Linked DNA regions of Homo sapiens: region 2 is linked to region 1. The links come from fine-mapping of genetic effects on gene expression. A gene starts in region 1. The other region holds a variant in brackets. All regions are shown on one strand. Distances are from middle to middle. Region 1 holds the start of LINC03019 (long intergenic non-protein coding RNA 3019). Region 2 overlaps LINC03019 (long intergenic non-protein coding RNA 3019).

Region 1 (9,982 bases):
CACTTCTATCATCATTGAAAGGCTACAGAGCACTTTTCTATATCTTTGTTACAACCCTTACAGGGAAGTCAAGGAGTGTATTGTTATCCTTGTTTATATATATAGAAATGTAGCCTAGAGATTTGCTAAGTGCCCACTAAGGCCTTCGGACTCCTAACTCAGAGCTCTGTCCATCATGACATTATGTTGCCCTACAGAAAATTAAGGAGTCTTTGGTGTTACTATGGATTGAATTGTGCCCCCTCCAAAAAGTATGTTGAATTCCTAACCCCTGTAAGAGGAAAATGCCATGTGAGGAAAGAGGCAGAGACTCAAGTGGTGCAGTTGCAAGCCAAGAAATGCCAAGAATCAATGGCCACCACCAGAAGGTAGGAGGAGGCAAGGACTGCTGACACCTTGGCTTTGAACTTCCAGTCTCCAGCACTGTGAAAAAATAAATTTCTGCCAAAATCAGTCACATGGCCTTCCTTAGCTGCTGGGGAACTTGAGAAAGGTAGGGTACATGCAGCCATGCAGTTTATGATACTTTTTTGTAGAAACCCTAGAAGATGAATACAGGTGTAAATGCTTAAATTTCAGTTAAAGCCAAGAAGCATGGTGTCAATTATTTTCCTGTAATGAAAATGTGGCTCACATAAATGAGCCTGGAGATTTCTCCAAGCACTGACATAAGCACAGAAATGGGTCCTTTCTGCAGAACTACGTCTCCATCGTGGTTGTAGCTTTCTGTATCCCCCCATCAAAGATCTTCCTCACAGGAGATGAAACCTCAGTGTGACTCCGACTCCCTTGAACTCACACCCTTTCCTCCACAGGTGATCTAACATTTTGTACATGTCACTCTTAGCTTTTGTTGGAGACCTGAGAGATGCATCAGTGTCAATGCAGAAATGACAATATTGTTGAAATCAATGCTTACTGATTAGCAAACTCCAGACAGGGAGCAATTATAAACAATAAAATCAGGAAGAAAAATTACCTTCTTCCACTAATGCTACAAAAATAAAACACTTAACTTCCCCAAAGAGATAGTCAACAAATATTTGCTACTGAGACCAGGAGAGTGCTTTCAAATCATGCTTCACAAAAATATAACCCACCAACTACTTAAAAAGGGGGTTTGGTGGTCCAATACGTTTAGGAAATACAGCCTTCTCTTGTGCTGGGATATTCACTATGCACATTCCCACATTGCTTCCTCTGAGAAATATTGTAGTTAAAAACATAGACAAAAACATCTTAGCTAATATTATACTTTTCTGTTACTCTTTTCTCTTATAACAATTATTAATATCTAGGAATGTACTTTGGGAAACAATGGGCTGTGCTATTCCTAAATTTCACCAAGTAGATGATCTGATGCAGGAGAAACTGTGAACTATTTACTGTGCTACATGTAAGGTGGGCTGACCAGAATGGCGCTGCCCCACTCAAGAGGCACACGTGGAAAGACTCACTGGCTTATCATGGATGAGGTGTGAGGCTTATGCAGTTGAGGAACCTTTTAAAGAAAAGAATATAAGATGACCATGTGACCCCAATGTCGGGGTTCCTCCTCAGGCTTTGGAGTCATCCTGGCAAGTGAGGGTTTTGTTTTTTTTGTTTGTTTTTTGTTTTTTTTTAAGGCAGAGTTTCGCTCTTTTTGCCCAGGATGGAGTGCAATGGCGTGGTCTTGTCTCACTGCAACCTCCGCCTCCCAGGTTCAAGCAATTCTCCTGCCTCAGCCTCCCGAGTAGCTAGGATTACAGGCACACACCAACATGCCCAACCCAATTTTTGTATTTTTGTAGAGGCGGGGTTTCACCATGTTGGCCAGGCTGATCTTGAACTCCTGACCTCCGGTGATCCACCTGCCTCGGCCTCCCAAAGTGCTGGGATTACAGGCGTGAGCCACCACGCCTGACGCAAGTGAGGGTTTCTAAAGCTTCTGCTCCATTAGCTTTGTGGGAAATCCACCTTGGCTTAAAATATGACTGGGTTCATGAAATAAAATTAAAACTCAAATTAACGGTGGTATAAACAATATAGAAATGTATTGCTCTTTTATCCCAGAGTCCAGAGATAGGGTTTCCAGGACTGATATTGTCACTGCATTGCATGAGGTTTCTTCTGGGACGTTGCCTTTGACACCAAGTCCCTGGTACGAACACCAGGGTTGAGGAAGGGCTGGAAGAATGGGCGTGTTCCTAACATGCTCTGTGAAATGCACTTTGAATTTCTTACATCCCATTGGCCAGAATTAGTCACATGGCCTTCCTTAGCTGCTGGGGACCTTGAGAAAGGTAGGGTACATTAGCTAAATATCAAGGGTTTGTAGAAGAGGAAAATGAGTATTAAGGCAGCTAGCGTTTTCTGCTCCCTCTCTCTCCCCTCACTCCTCACTCTCTCGACTTTTAAATGTATGAACTCAGAGCTTTATTATCTAGCATTAATATCTTTGCATTGAGGAATGGATGCTCCTAAAATCATCAGAATGGGCTTATACTGTATGTGCTTTTAGAAAATAAAAGGCTTTTGAGAAGAAAGTAAAATAGAAAAAAGAAAATCATGGACTGCAGGGATTCCCAGATTCTTCGTAAGCGAACAGTATTCTTCATTTCCCTGTGTGGTCACGGAAGACCTGATTGAGCGTGAGGCCAGGGAGATACCAAGTGAGAGGAGACAGGGAGTGGGTGCCGCCAACTGCTGGCCCTCGCCACCCACCCCTTGGAATCAGCAGAACTTGAGGGCTGAAGGGAGGGGAACTGACTCCATTTTCCTTAAAGCACCTTAAGCCTTTTATTTCGTTACCCCCAGGAGGAAGCAGGAACGTAGACATTTTTTTGGAAGAAGGTTTTTAAAAGAAAATCTGTACTTGGATTGTTAAAAAGACAGAAACGAAGGAGAGAATGGTCTGAGAAATTTGAGTAGGTTGATTTCTGACTATCTGAGCTATATATTCCTATCAACAGCCTGAGCTCTCAGCTCAAGAGCCTGTCAACACTTCAGCAGCAGCAGAAGATTCCCGGGAAGCATCTCTGGGTGTTTGGCAGGCTCCCCCGGGGCCAACTGCCTGGCCCTTCAGACTGATGGGCTTGGAACTGCTCTTTAAGGAGTGCACTCCTGGAACAAAGGGGCCTTGTTTGTCTCCTCTGTGTTCTGGAATAATCGCTGCCTTTAAAGATGTTGTAGAGTGAATGTGATGCAAACTTTCTGTACTCACATAAATTTTTTTTAATTTTATTTTTTTAAACTGAGCTTAAGGCATGTGGTTGAAACAAATACACACTTACAAAAGGGGTCTGTCTGCTCCACGGGGGTGTTAGATGCCATTCCTAACCCTCCTGGGGCACAAACTTGCACCAGTAAAACAGAAGGCATGAGATATGGCCTATAAGGAACTGTTGTTACCTTTTGTTATGAATGATACTTCAACAACCTCTTACTGGTTTGTTGAGTCTATTCAACTACCTTGATTAGATGTGATCTACAATAGAAAAACCAGATTAAGTCCAAAGAAAATAGTTCTTAACCAGGTGGAGGAAAAAATTTTGGAGAGGTCTGAACTTCAAAGGCTAAGCAAAAGTTAGGATGAATGATTAACAGTTTATAATACTTCACTAAAGTGAAGAATTAATTTTAAAAATACATGTGATGTATACATAAATATAAAGTTAGGTTATCTGGTATTTTGACTAAATACATGTAGTGTTGTACAATACTAATTAATTTATATGGTTCTCTTTTTTAGGTAAGTAGTAATTAATAATTTAGCATTAGGGTTGGTGCAAAACTTATTGCAGTTTTTGCCATATATGAGCTGGTGAAGCGGCATCATTGGTCTGTAATACCCAACGTTTGTTGCCTTGCGCCAAGGGAATCAAGGACGCAGACACACAAACAGTGAGGTTAAGAGTGGAGGTTTAATTGGCGAAAGAAAAGGAAGAGTTCTCTCTCCTGCAGAGAGAGAGAGGGGCACCCCAGCAGGTGTTCCGGTTCACAGCCAAGTGCATAAGATTTTATAGATGAGCTTGAGGAGGCGGTGTCTGATTTATATAGGGCATGAGAGATTGGTGAGACCAGGTGTGCCATTTGCATAGCTGGCCACCCCACCCTAATCTTTAATTATGCAGTTGGTTCTCTACCTGGCCAGCGCCATGTTGCCTGTTTCTTTACTGTACACATGGTGACAAAGAAAAGCGAAGATGGAGCCTCCATGTTGAACCTACCTGGCCCCCAGGTAGGCTTCCCCTATTGCAATGCACAGCCGCCGTCATTCACCTGTGCAAGCTTCCAGCTTGGTTATCTATGTCTGCAGCTTGATTTTACAGGCTGCTTTTTGTTAGAAAAGAAATTATCTGGGGGCTGCTTTTTGTTAAAAGGGAAGCCTTGCCAAGGACTCCCTTACTCTCACTCTCTGCCTAAATAATTTCTTTTTAGCTCCTGTATCACTGATAGAGAGTCAGGTCTGTTTTGGCAGATTAAGTCCATTCCGTTGATCAGACATGTATTGACTTTGTATATTGTGCAAGACAGCTGGGTGGGGATGGAAGAGATAAAAAAATGGGCAGCTATTGTTGCAGTCTCAGCAAGTGAATAATCAATGGGAAGGGATAACTTAGGTCTACAAATAGATATAATTTACCATATTTTGTCATCAATGCTAAAATATAGCTACAGGCAGTAATAGTAGGCTCCCTTTTTGGTGACCGATGGATACTTGCCATTATACTATTTAATTTATATTATGTCCATTAACATGACATGACAAGTCCCTATATGATATTTTAGGAAACTGAGTAACAACAACAAAAAAATAAGTAATTTGCTCAAGGTCAGAGCTAAGAAGCCAAGGAGCCAGGTTTCAAATGCCGATTGCCAGATCCTTGCTCTGGGGCACACTTTGGACACGCAAATAAAGGCTTAACTGTTTCTGGCACAGAAACAGAGTGTCTCATAGAAGTGGCATCTGAGCTGGGTCTTGAGGGGTACGTATGTTAATGATGGAGTGAGGAAAGGGAATCAAGTCATCAAAGACACGGAGATGGAAAAGTACAGAGATTGTTTAAGGACCTGAAAAGAAGTCTGACTTGGTAGCAGCAGAGTGAGAGTAGAGGGAGATGAAACGGAGAGGCTGAAGCCAGCTGGGAGTCAGGTGGCCGCGCAATGATGTCAAGTCATGGGTTTCTAGAATTGTGGGAAGGCCCAGGGCAAATCACAGGGCAAATCACAGCTCTGTCGACTGGTTTCCTCTGTAAAATAGAAATAGAGTAAGATCATAAACTCACGTTCCAACTCTGGATTTATGCTTTCCTGTCCAGGAACATTTAGTCTCCCCTTCCCACTTCCCACCTCGGTCCATGAGGGAAGCAAAATGTGTCCATTCTTCTGCCCACGCCCAGTCCTGCACTAACTCCTCCCCAAAGCAGAGTAAGTGGTTTCCTGGTCGGTGAGAACATGAGAGTGTCACTGCACTGGGTTTTACCCATGGTCGGAATTGCTGAAATTCCTGAGTGGTTAAGGACAAACCCACCCGAGTCACTCTACTGCTGTTTCCTGTGTCCACATGGTAAACTCTCAGCTTCTGGCCAAAGACCTTGGTGGACCCTGCTGACTTGCTGTAAGATCTTCTTACATGTTTTTTTTTTGTTTGTTTGTTTGTTTTGAGGCAGATTCTCACTGTCTTGTCCAGGCCAGTCTGCAGTGGCACAATCTTGACACAATCACTGCAACCTCCACCTTCTGGGGTCAAGCAATTCTCATGCCTCAGTCTCCTGAGTAGCTGGGATTACAGGCATGCACCACCACGCCCGGCTAATTTTTGTATTTTTAGTAGAGACAGTGTTTCACTGTATTGGCCAGGCTAGTCTAAAACTCCTGATCTCAAGTGATCTGCCTACCTCAGCCTCCCAAAGTACTGGGGTTACAGGCATGAGCCACCATGCCCGGCCTTCTTATATCGTTTTTGATGTGTTTTGGAGCATAAGTGGGCTTCCTGATAATCTTAGAGTCAGGCACAGGGACTTAGGCTTCCTTACTTCAACTTTATTATCCAAATTCCTCTTGCTAGAGAGCGTTGCATTGGGATGATTGAGTCCTTGCCTAGCTCTTAATGAAGTGATATTTTGTTTTCCCATTGGCAGTTGTTCTTTGTGTGTATAGATTTCTTGGTTAGAAACTTCTAGGTTATGGAAGAGGAGAAAGGGAAGGAACAGGAGCGGGTAGGGGAGAAAGAGGAGGAGGTAGGAGCAGGAAGAGCAAAGGGAGAAGAAGGAAGGGGAGGGAAGACAGGATACTCATTCCCCAGCCCAGGAAAGGCAGATGCTTGAGAGCCTGATGTCTGTGGGTGGTTGTGGGGAAGACTGGTAAAACTTCCTGGCTTCATATTTTTTTAGTTTCATTTTCAAAAGAAGGAAAAATTGCCCAAATTCGATTTAATTCTACAATTATGGGGCACTCACTACATGCAAGAAACTGTTCTAGAAGTTGGGAGTAGGTTGGACATAGATAGGAAAGAGATAAAAAAGGTTCCCTCTATTTAGTTTCTTAAGGAACTAAAGTACAAAATAGTTTGTCATTGAAGTTAAGCAGAAGAATTCACGTCTTCTAATTTACTGCAAACTCTACAAAATATCAAATGACAAACTGACTCATGAGAGCTCTTAGAAGTGAGAACTGGGTGTCTTCCAGGGGGTTATATAAGACAATAGCATTTATAAAAATGAGCTTCTTTTGTAGTTTTTCTTGATTCTGGAAACTTCAATTACCCTTCTCACTTCTGCTAACTTTTAAAAATCATGCAGAGATGTTATCCAACAAATGCCTGTTTAAGCCAAGGGAGGTCACTCCTAAAGCAACCATCCAAAAGACCTGCTCTTTTCAAATCTCTTCACAGATAACAGAAAGCAAATGTTCAAAATAATTATAAACAAAGGAACAAGTAAGAGATTTCCAGAAGCGAACACTTTTTAAACTAGATCTGAGAAAACACTATTTCAATAGTTAAGATTTATCTCCATCTGGGAACATTAATCCTTAAAACAGCCTGCCTCTGATAAAGCTTTTCTTTCCCGCTGAAAATGAGAATATGCAATGTTCTTTCTCACTGTTCAATAGCGTTTTTGCCTCCTTCTGGGTATACTATGCCGTAGGATATAAACGTCATTCTTTTTATTACAGAAAATATTTCTAAACTTCTACAGGCATATCCCTCCCCCCTCCCCCCACCCCACAACAGTCCCCAGAGTGTGATGTTCCCCTTCCTGTGCCCATGTGTTCTCATAGTTCAATTCTCATCTATGAGTGAGAACATCTGGTGTTTGGTTTTTTGTCCTTGCGATAGTTTACTGAGAACGATTTCCAATTTCATCCATGTCCCTATAAAGGACATGAACTCACCATTGTTTATGGCTGCATAGTATTCCATGGTGTATATGTGCCACATTTTCTTAATCCAGTCTATCATTGTTGGACATTTGGCTTGGTTCCAAGTCTTTGCTATTGTGAATAGTGCCGCAATAAACATACGTGAGCATGTGTCTTTATAGCAGCATGATTTATAGTCCTTTGGGTATATACCCAGTAATGGGATGGCTGGGTCAAATGGTATTTCTAGTTCTAGATCCCTGAGGAATCGCCACACTGAGTTCCACAATGGTTGAACTAGTTTACAGTCCCACCAACAGTGTAAAAGTGTTCCTATTTCTCCACATCCTCTCCAGCACCTGTTGTTTCCTTACTTTTTAATGATCGCCATTCTAACTGGTGTGAGATGGTATCTCATTGTGGTTTTGATTTGCATTTCTCTGATGGCCAGTGATGGTGAGCATTTTTTCATGTGTCTTTTGGCTGCATAAATGTCTTCTTTTGAGAAGTGTCTGTTCATATCCTTTGCCCACTTTTTGGTGGGGTTGTTTGTTTTTTCTTGTAAATTTGTTTGAGTTCATTGTAGATTCTGGATATTAGCCCTTTGTCAGATGAGTAGGTTGCAAAAATTTTCTCCCATTGTGTAGGTTGCCTGTTCACTCTGATGGTAGTTTCTTTTGCTGTGCAGAAGCTCTTTAGTTTAATTAGGTCCCATTTGTCAATTTTGGCTTTTGTTGCCATTGCTTTTGGTGTTTTAGACATGAAGCCCTTGCCCATGCCTATGTCCTGAATGGTAATGCCTAGGTTTTCTTCTAGGGTTTTTATGGTTTTAGGTCTAACGTTTAAGTCTTTAATCCATCTTGAATTAATTTTTGTATAAGGTGTAAGGAAGGGATCCAGTTTCAGCTTTCTACTTATGGCTAGCTAGTTTTCCCAGCACCATTTATTAAATAGGGAATCCTTTCCCCATTGCTTGTTTTTCTCAGGTTTGTCAGAGATCAGATAGTTGTAGACATGCGGTGTTATTTCTGAGGGCTCTGTTCTGTTCCATTGATCTATATCTCTGTTTTGGTACCAGTACCATGCTGTTTTGGTTACTGTAGCCTTGTAGTGTAGTTTGAAGTCAGGTAGCGTGATGCCTCCAGCTTTGTTCTTTTGGCTTAGGATTGACTTGGCCATGCGGGCTCTTTTTCGGTTCCATATGAACTTTAAAGTAGTTTTTTCCAATTCTGTGAAGAAAGTCATTGGTAGCTTGATGGGGATGGCATTGAATCTATAAATTACCTTGGGCAGTATGGCCATTTTCACGATATTGATTCTTCCTAGCCATGAGCATGGAATGTTCTTCCATTTGTTCGTATCCTCTTTTATTTCATTGAGCAGTGGTTTGCAGTTCTCCTTGAAGAGGTCCTTCACGTCCCTTGTAAGTTGGATTCCTAAGTATTTTATTCTCTTTGAAGCAATTGTGAATGGGAGTTCACTCATGATTTGGTTCTCTGTTTGTCTGTTATTGGTGTATAAGAATGCTTGTGATTTTTGTACATTGATTTTGTATCCTGAGACTTTGCTGAAGTTGCTTATCAGCTTAAGGAGATTTTGGGCTGAGACAATGGGGTTTTCTAGATATACAATCATGTCGTCTGCAAACAGGGACAATTTGACTTCCTCTTTTCCTAATTGAATACCCTTTATTTCCTTCTCCTGCCTAATTGCCCTGGCCAGAACTTCCAACACTATGTTGAATAGGAGTGGTGAGAGAGGGCATCCCTGTCTTGTGCCAGTTTTCAAAGGGAATGCTTCCAGTTTTTGCCCATTCAGTATGATATTGGCTGTGGGTTTGTCATAGCATTAGGAGATATACCTAATGCTAAATAACGAGTTAATGGGTGCAGCACACCAGCATGGCACATGTATACATATGTAACTAACCTGCACATTGTGCACATGTACCCTAAAACTTAAAGTATAATAATAATAATAATAATAATAAAAAATAAACTTCTATAGGCATATTCTTAATATATTTTTTCTGGTTTTAATGTTTTCTATGGTAATTATGAGATTAATTTGTTGTTTTCCAAGTAGCTCTGGTGTTCTGTTGACTCTAGCCCAAATTAATTGTTTCAAGAAGAAACTAAAACCAAAGAATTTTGATAGGATAACTGAGAGAGAGTCACACATATGCGAGACTATGGAAAATAAAGTTTGGGGAAGGCAAAGGCAGATTTGTAGATTTCACTGCTGAGTTTGGTTTTTTGTTTTTGTTTTGTTTTGTTTTCAGACAGAGTCTCACTCCTGTCACCCAGGCTGGAGTGCAGTGGCACAATCACGGCTCACTGCAGCCTCAGCCTCCTGGGCTCAGGCAATCCTCCCACCTCAGCTTCCCGAGTAGCTGGGTCCACAGGAGTGCACCACCATGCCCGGCTAATGTTTTTTTTGTTTGTTTGTTTGTTTGTTTGTTTGTTTGTTTGAGACAGAGTCTCGTCTCGCTCTGTCGCCCAGGCTGGAGTGCAGTGGCACGATCTCGGCTCACTGCAAGCTCCGCCTCCCGGGTGCATGCCATTCTCCTGCCTCAGCCTCCCGAGTAGCTGGGACTACAGGCGTCCGCCACCACGCCCAGCTAATTTTTTGTATTTTT
Region 2 (9,982 bases), 26 kb after region 1:
ACTGTTCTCGTGATAGTGAATGGGTCTCAGGAGATCTGAAGGTTTTATAAACAGGAGTTTCTCTGCACAAGCTCTCTCTCTTTGCCTGCTGCCATCCCCCTAAGATGTGACTTGCTCCTCCTTGCCTTCTGCCATGATTGTGAGGCCTCCCCAGTCATGTGGAACCGTAAGTCCAGTAAAACTCTTTTTTTTTTTTGAGGCAGAATCTCGCTCTGTCACCCAGGCTGGAGTGCAGTGGCGCGATCTCGGCTCACTGCATGCTCCGCCTCCTGGGTTCACGCCATTTTCCTGCCTCAGTCTCCCGAGTAGCTGGGACTACAGGCACCCGCCACCACGCCCTAATTTTTTTGTATTTTTAGTAGAAACAGAGTTTCACCGTGTTAGCCAGGATGGTCTCGATTTCCTGACCTCGTGATCCACCCGCCTCGGCCTCCCAAAGTGCTGGGATTACAGGTGTGAGCCACCTCACCCAGCCAAACTCTTTCCTTTGTAAATTGCCCAGTTTTGGGTATGTCTTGATCAGCAGCATGAGAACAGACTAATACAAAGAGTATACCAAAATCTTGGAGTATCCCATCTTCCCTTGTACCTTTCTTTACTCCATGTCCTTACCCAAAGATCATAAACATAATCGCATCCACCACAATTCTTTACGTGCAAGAAGAAACTGCCCTGCTGGCTTCTGTTCAGGAGACTTTCTCTTGAGCACCATGAGCTCAAGTGAGTTTACCCTTACATGCATAATTCGTCCCCTAAATCTCCAGTCCCTTACACTCCCAGGGAGAATGGGAGAGACACGGCTCTTTTCCTATGATGTGCTCGCTGCAGTACTTTTAATGTAAGTTGCCTCTTAGCTTTTTATCTTCTGGTCTGTAGGTTGTTAAACATTTTATAACCATTCCCAGTCTCAGGACTGCCAGATAATTTTTCTATCTGAGGTGTAAGATGAGCCAAATTATTCTTCCTTTATAAATATTTTAAAATATATTTGAATTCACACAAAGACATAGCAAACGATATCTTTAACATAGAGTACAAATACTTCCTCAACATATATTATATACATATTACTTAGCAATATAATTTATTTGGACTTCAGGAATGAGGAAACCAGTTTAAGTCTCTGTTTAAAAAGACTTGTTGGGCCAGTGCGATGGTTCACGCCTGTAATCCTAGCACTTTGAGTGGCAGAGCGGGGAGGATCACTTGAGTTTAGGAGTTCGAGACCAGCCTGGGCAACATGGGGAGAACATAGGGCAATGCAGCTCAGGAGGCTGGGATTACTCAGGGGGCTGAGGTAGGAGGATCACTTGAGCTCAGGAGGTTGAGGCTGCAGTGACCTGTGATCATGCCACTGCACTCCAGCCTGGGCAACAGACACCCTATCTCAAAAAAATAAATAAAATGTCTTGCTATGTGTTCCTCTGTGAGTCCTATTTTTTGCAAAAGACGTTGGCCCATTAAGAAAACATTCCATCTAAACCCTAAGTAATAATCTCAAGTCATTGCTCAAGTTAAATGACGCTTCACATCTCGTGAAATGTATTTGTTTTGATAGCAGACCCATGGATCACATGCTGTTTATAACGCTTGGTAGACTGCAGAAGAGAGTGATATACAGGCAATATGACCCATGTAACCACAGAGGAGAATTGGTCTTTTCTCATCTGCACACATATGACCCAACCATGCTGTCTTGCACGTATTCTAGCTTGCACTTCTTTACTTCCTGGATGAAACAATGATTACTTTTACTTATTTATGACATCCTATCTCCAAAAAGAATCTAAAGCAGCTGGCAAAGTTGATTAATAGCCGTTGGAAAAATAGAGCCCAGGGCCGAAGTTGGGTTTATCAGGAAGAAATTTACACCACACTAAGCATAACAGTTGATCAATGCCAGGAGTGAGCTAAAAATTGCATGGGAAGACTTATTGATGCTCATTATGTAATTTTTTAGCAGTGCAAATACAAATGCACTGTAAAATCTGCAAAATATAGCAGGTTAATCAACCTAGACCATTTGCAATTATGAAAATGTTGTTGACAGCTTCAAAAATAAAGGTCATTTGTGTAACAAAATATACAAAGCTTGTCTTTGAATAAGAGCCACTCCTTACCCGAATAGAAATTAGGTCCAACTACAAACAAAATTTTCCCATAAAGGAAAATGTGAGATTTGCTGATTTGTTTTTCTCTGCCAGCCTAAAGAATGATGATGCCAGGAAGAATTTTTTTGGAACATGTGTACAAACAGGCAAAGATCCCCCTGAAATAAGGCCTAGAACTTTGGCATCATACAGTATTTCCCAACGTAGAATCCTTTATTATGAGGGCATTGAGCTGTTTTGAATTTTTTTCAGAAGGCATATTTTAAAATACATCTCAAATCTGAACATCCTAGTCCAGTCTCCACCATTTCTTACTTGGACTATTGCAGTAGTTTTTCAATTGTTCTTTTTTCTTCCATGCTTTCAGCACTACTGGCAAGCAAAGTGTTCACTGATGAATGAACAATTACATTTACCCACAGACTGAAATATGATGTTATTTTGTTTTGACTGAAATTCCAACTCACTGTGAGAATACTGGTAAGTTCATATAAATCAAAAGTTCTAATTGGAAGTCATTTATATGAGTGTATCATTACCTTTTTCCCCTAAGAATTCTTTTAGACTTTTTTTTAATGACTGCCTTGAAATTTTAGTACAATAGATGCACTGTGCTTTATGTATAAAAGAGTAAGGTGGGCCCAGCGCAGTGGCTCACGCATGTAATCCCAGCACTTTGGGAGGTCGAGGCAGGTGGATCGCCTGAGGTCAGGAGTTCGAGACCAGCCTGGCCAACATAAGGAAACCCCATCTCTACTAAAAATCCAAGAAATCAGCTGGGACTGGTGTTGGGCACCTGTAATTCCAGCTACTAGGGAGGCTGAGGCAGGAGAATGGCTTGAACCCGGGAGGCGAAGATTGCAGTGAGCCGAGATCGCGCCTTTGCAGTCCAGCCTGGGCAACAAGAGTGAAACTCACTCTCGAAAAAAAAAAAAGAGTAAGATGTATTCACTCATACCAGAAGAACCAATTTTTGCTTCCACTGAGAATACATGATCTATTAAGTAAAATGGGGAAAACTAATGTATTACTTAGCATACTATAGTTATTCTCATGGAGAAAATCTTCCTAAATATGGGGTCCATAAGAGAAAAATAGTGGTCCTAACTGATTTTTTATTGAAGTCAAGAACCAGATAAATAGCTGTTAACTCTATCATCTTTCTGGGGTATGTCTTCTTAATGCCAGTTGTATTCCTTCTTCCATATAGTTGAGAAACTATGGAAAATACAGGAAATGTACTGCACACAGAGCCCCTGCCTGTAGTTCCTGTCTAGCTTGCTGGCTATATTGGTTGATTATATGACTGCTATCTGTACCTGTTTACAATTCATAAGACATTCAGGGCTTTGTGGCTTTTTTTCCTGTCTCCTACATGAAGGGGCTCAGACCACAAGCATGCAAAAAGTAAGTAATCAAAGGCAATAATAAAACAACACAGAACGAAACTATAAGAAGATACAAGGCCAAGGCAGTATATAATTAAGGGTCAGGTGACTAATCCAAGAGTTAATGATTTTCAAAGTGCATCTTGTGGAACCTCCAGAGAGGCATCCCAGAGGCTGTCACAGAGACAAAGAAGGGTCCAAATTTAGGTCCAGGAGTAGAGTTTGTCAAGATGTAAGACTTAAGGTCTCCCACCATCACTCAACCAGAACCCTTCACTTTCATACATTTCTTGTGTTGGCGTTTTGCATGTTTTCTTTAAAGAACAATGTAATGATTTAGTCTGTTCTGTGAAGTTTTTTCTATGTTTGAACTGATTGAATTTAGAAAATTGTTTTCAGAGATATGATTTTTTTTTTAATATTGGCACACTTAATGTTAAAACTATTTGATCAGAAGATACTTAAATGTCAGAATCGACCACTGTTGTGAGAATCCAAAGATAATACCAGTGCTCTGAGGATACTTATTGTGCTAGTCTTTATGGCA[A/G]TTGTTTCCAAATGTTAGTATTTATCAGAATCACCTGGAGGCCTTGTTGAAACAAGGGTTCTGATTCAATAGGCCTGGGTGGGGCAATTTGCTTTTTACTAGGTAGTAAGACTTGGCACCAACATAAATAAAAATGGTTTAAAATCACTACAAAAGAAGCCCAAAAGAATTTTTTTCTAAATACTCAAGATTTATCTTCTACACCTGGGGATCCCTCCTGCTCACTTTCGTTTTAGCCATGGTATTAAAATTAAAATACAGGTGCCATATAAGCATCAATAACTAATTTTGAGTTTGTAGGTTCTGTCATATGGTCAATTCCTATTAAGAATCAAAAGACTATGAATGCCTAATAGAGGTGCAAATAGTTCTCTTCCCTATACCACTTTTTTTTTTTTGAGACAGAGCCTTGCTCTGTTGCCCAGGCTGGAGTGCAGTGTCACAATTTCAACTCACTGCAACCTCTACCTCCTGGGCTCAAGCCGTCCTCCCACCTTAGTCTCCCAAGTAGCTGGGCTACAGGGGCATGCCACCTATACCTGGCTAATTTTTGTATTTTTTGTAGAGACAGGGTTTCACCATGTTGCCCAGGCTGCCCTTGAACTCCTGTGCTCAAGCAATCCTCCCACCTTGGCCCCCCCAAATTGCTAGGATTACAGGTGTGACCCACTGAGCCCAGCATCATATACCACTTTCTGCAAGAATATAAAAGGCAGAACAATACCACCCTATGTGATTAAGACAGTTGACTAGAGGTGTCCGGCACTAATCTCCTCTTCAAAGAAGGACCAAAATGGTGAGTAGAGTATGCTGAATAGAGTATGTAAGGGAGAACACTAGAATTCAGCAGGGAAGTGACAAGGACCCTCTGAGGAGGGAAACTCAAGATGATAGCCTAGAGAGGGCAGCAGAGCAGCTGGCCAGAGCCAGGAGGGGTTCCCCATTGTGAGGATTCCCTTTGCAAGAGATCTCCAACAGTCCACATTCCCATAACACACACCTGCAATCGTAGTGACAGGAAAGCCACTCGGGCCTCAAAAGCCCAGTGCTTAGTAAAGGGAGCTGCTTTGAGTCCATGTGATTACATTGTCCTGAAGAGGGAATTCACACTGGGTTCCACTCACCCTACAGAACACAGGCTGCTGCCACATGACACCATTTTAAGAATGGAACAAACACCAGGCTACATCCTGCCCTGGGGTCCAAGAACTCCTACATTTCCACATCCCTGAGGCCCAGCCAACATTCCCCTCATATCCACTTAGAGGGCTGCAGCATCATGACACCAGCTGGACCCAGCAGTGTGACTGCATGCCAGAGACCCAAGCCCCCACAGTGCCCTACACTCTGGGAAACAGGTGGTCTTGCATATTAGGGAGGCTGCCCCTAGGATTTATGGAGCTGAAGCTTGTACTCCCCAAAGCCTGAGAATCACCTGCCAGGGGCTGCCACCACCACCAATTACCTTGCCCCCTCCAGCAGCAGGGCTGCCACAGACCCGAGTGTGCCTCCGAGAGACTCAAAAGCCAATCCACCACTGGCACCTGCACGTGCTGCTAATGGACCCTGGAAATGATCCTTACCAGGGCTCACTGATGCCATAGTCTGTGCTCATGTGCACAATCCAGGGTCCTGAGAACCAGCCCATCTAGCACCCCAGGCTCCAGAAAAGTCTCACCACAGCCTTCATAAACAACTGTAACCTAAGCTACTAAGAAACTCACAGACACCACTGACAATGATACAGTCAAAGAAATCATATAGGAACTACACTATGACACCCACTGCAACCAAACCTAATGTGCTCTACCCAACTGACAGTATAGATATGTCTGCAGGAAAAAGTCTTTCACTGTGAAAACTACTGCATAAAACTGGAAGAAGTGACTGTTACACCAGATGTGTAGATATCAGTGTATGTACACAAAAAACATGAACAAGCCAGGAACATGACACCACCAAAGGAACATAGTACTTATCCAGTGACAGATCCTAAAGAAAAAAAACATAAAATTCTTAAAAAGGATTTCAAAATATTATTAATATAGTTGTATTAATAATAAAATAGTATTGATGTTAATGAAAATATAATTATTAATGAATTGATAGATAATATTAATGATTAAAATATTATTTTCTTAAGGAAACAGTGAGGCATAAGAATACAAACAAAACAAAGACATTTTAAAAAAGAATTCATAATGGGAATGGAAAAATTCAAAGAGATAGTGTATTAGTCCATTCTTGTGCTGCTACAAAGAAATACCTGAGACTGGGTAATTGATAAAGAAAAGAAATTTAATTGGCTCACAGCTCCACAGGCTGTATAGGATACATAATGGTGGCATCTGCTTGGCCTTTGGGGAGGCCTCAGGAAACTTACAAATATGGCAGAAGGCAAAGGGGGAGCAAGCACTTCGCATGTCTGGAGCAGGAGGAAGAAAGGGGGAGATACTACACACTTTTAAACAACCAGATCTTGTGATAACCCACTCTCATCATGACAGTACCAAAGGGGATGGTGTTAAACCATGAGAAACTGTCCCCATGATCCAATCACCTCCCACCAGGCCTACCTCTAGCATGGGGGATTACAATTTGACATGAGATTTGGGTAAGGACACAGATCCAGACCATATCAGATAGATATTATTAAAAAGAACCAAACAGAAATCCTAGAACTGAAGAATTTGATGATAAAATAAAAAATATAATTGAATGCTTCAGTATTAAACTAGATCAAGCAGAAGAAAGAATTTCTGTACTTGAAGACAGGTCTTTTAAAATAACCCAGTCAAACAAATAAACAAAAAGAATAAAAAGGAATAAAGAAAGCCTATGTGACATATAGGACAACATCAAGGGAACAAATATTCAAATTATGAGCGCTCCAGAAGTAGAAAAGATGAGAAAAGGCATAAAAAGCCTATTTAATTAAAAAATAGCAGAAAACTTCTGAAGTCTTGGAAGAGTTATAGAAATGCAGATAGAGGAAGTTTAAACATTCCCAAATAGATTTAACCCAAAAATGTCATCTCCAAGGCACATTATTGTCAAATTGTCAAACGTCAAAAAGTAGAGAGAGAATTCTAAAAATAGCAAGTAAAAAAGCATCAAGTCACACATAAGGGAATCCCCATCAGACTAATATCAGATTTCTCAGCAGAAACCTTACAGGCCAGAGAAAATGGGATGATAGACTCAAAGTGCTGAAAGAAGAAAACTGCTAGTCAAGAACACCAAACTGAGCAAAGCCATAATTCAGGAATAAAGCTACAAATGAAGTCTTTGCCAGAGAAGCAAAATGTGAGGGAATTTATCACCACTAGACTAGCCCTATAACAGATGCTTAAGGAAGTCCTACAAACAGAAGCTAAAAGATGGTATCTACCATCAAAAAAAAAAAAAAAAAAAAAAAAAACATGAAAGCATAAAACTCACTGGTAGAACAGATACACAAGTGAGAAGGAGAAAGGAATAAAAGGTTATCACTACAGAAAACCACCAAGTTGCAAAGATAAACAAGTGAGGAAAAAGGCCACAAAGGATATATGAGACAATGAGAAATCAACTAACCAAATAACAGGAGTAAGTCCTCACCTATCAATAACAATCATGAATGTAGACCATTTAAATCTCCTATTTAAGAGATACAGACTCACTGAATGGATTTAAAAACGGAAGACCCACCTATATACAAGAAATGCACTTCACCTGTAAAGACACACACAGACTGAAAGTAAAGGGTTAGAAAAAGGTATTCCACACAAACGGAAACCAAAAGTGTGTGGGAGCACCTAAACTTATATCAGACTAAATAGACTATAAGTCAAAAAAATAAATAGAAAGAGACAAAGAAAATCATTACGTTATGATAAAGGGATCAATTCAGCAAGAGGATATAACAATTGTAAATGAATATGCACCCAACACAGGATCACCTACATATTAAAAGCAAACATTATTAGAGATAAAGAGAGATACTTACCAATACAATAATAGTTGGGGACTTTAATATCCCACTTTCATCATTGGACAGGTCATGTAAGCAGAAAATCGATCAAGAAACATAGAATTAAGCTGCACTATAGACTAAATGACCAAACAGACATCTACAGAACATTGTATCCAACAGTTATAGAATATGCATTCTTCTCATCAGCACATGAAACATTCTCTAGGATAGATCATATTTTATGCCACAAAACAAATCTCAACAAATATAAAAAATAGAAATCCTATCAAATTTAGGAAATTTCAGAAAAAAATTGATAAATTCCTGGACAGACATAACCTACCAAGATAGAACTAGGAAGAAACAGAAAACCTGAACACACCAATAACAGACCAAAGTAACAAGGTTGAATCAGTAGTAAAATGCCTCCTAACAAAGAAAAGCCCAGGACCAGATGGCTTTACTGCTAAATTCTACCAAACATTTAAAGAAGAATGAGCAACAATTCTTTTCAAACTATTTCAAAAAATTGAAGAAGAGGGAATTCTTCCTAACTCATTTTATGAGGCCACCACTACCCTGATAACAAAACCAGACCAGGACACAACAAATAAAGAAAACATAGATGCAAAAATCCTCAACAAAATACTGACAATCTGAACCTAACAACACAATGAGATTATACATCATGACCCAGTAGGATTTATCCCAGTGATGCGAAGATGGTTCAACAAATGCAAATCAGTACTTGTAATTCTACACTTCAACAGAATAAAGGACAAAAAATGTATGATAATCTCAATAAATGCAGAAAAATAATTTGATAAAATTCAACATCTTTCATGATAAAAACTCTACAAACGTTATGTATAGAAGGAACATACTTCAATAAAATAAAGGCCGTATATGACAAACTCACAGCTACTATACTCAATACAGAAAGGCTGAAAGCCTTTCCTCTAAGAACTAGGGCAAGACAAAATTGCCTTTCACTACTGTTATTCAACATGGTACTGTAAGTCCTAGCCACGGCACTTAGGCAAAAAAAAAAAAAAAGTACATAAAGGGCATCCAGATTGAAAAAGAGGAAGTAAAATTGTCCTTCTTTGCAGACAACATGATCTTATATGTAGGAAAACCTAAGACACCACCAAAAAACTCTTAGAACTGTTAGAAAAATCTAGTAAAGATGCAGGCTGCAAAGTCAGCATGCAAAGAATAGCAACAATTCTACACACTAAGAATGAACTGGCTGAAAAGTAAATTAAGAAAGCAATCTCATTTATGACGAGAAAAGTAAAATACCTAGGAATAAATGTGAAATACATCTACAATGAAAACTTAGAGACACTGATAAAGAAATTGAAGAGGATACATACACAAAAATGGAAAGACATAGCATAATCATGGATTGGAAGAGTTAGTACTGTTAAAATGACCATACTATGCAAAGCAATCTACAGATTCAATGGAATCCCAATCAAAACACTAATGACATTTTTCACCAAAATAGAAAAAAATCCTAAAATTTGTATGGAATCACACACACACACGCACGTGCACACACACACACACAAACCCTAAATAGCCAAAGCAATCCTTTGCAAAAAGAACAAAGCTGAAGGCATCATACTGTCTGACTTCAAAATACATACAAAACTATAGTAACCAAAACAGCATGGTATTGGTATAAAAAAACAGACACATAGACCAATGGAATAGAATAGAGAACATAAACATAAATCTATGCAGTTACAGCCAACACATTTTCATCAAAGGTGGCAAGAACTTACATTGGATGAAGGACACCCTGTCAATACATAGTGCTGGAAAAAATGAATATCTATATGCAGAAGAATAAAACTAGACCCCTATATCTCACGACATACAAAAATCAACTCAAAATGGATTAACGACTAGTGCAGAAGACCCAAACCTGTAAGACCACTAGAAGAAAACATAAAGGAAATGCTTCAGGACA

Evidence for each region. PIP is the estimated chance that this variant, and not a neighbour inherited with it, causes the effect.
Region 2: its variant is fine-mapped to the expression of LINC03019 in sun-exposed skin (GTEx, PIP above 0.99).

The regions. Positions count from the first base shown.
Region 1 is chr8:12,806,997-12,816,978 of GRCh38, reverse strand. LINC03019 (long intergenic non-protein coding RNA 3019) reads left to right here and starts at 5,501. Exons shown (of 5, transcript NR_152742.1): 1 at 5,501-5,599. The region is part of intron 1 of LINC00681 (long intergenic non-protein coding RNA 681); the gene reads right to left.
Region 2 is chr8:12,780,941-12,790,922 of GRCh38, reverse strand. LINC03019 (long intergenic non-protein coding RNA 3019) reads left to right here. Exons shown (of 5, transcript NR_152742.1): 2 at 2,479-2,591. Among named protein-coding and RNA genes, the nearest start is that of LINC00681, 8.3 kb to the left of the region's middle. The variant A/G (reference allele first, on the strand shown) is at 4,047.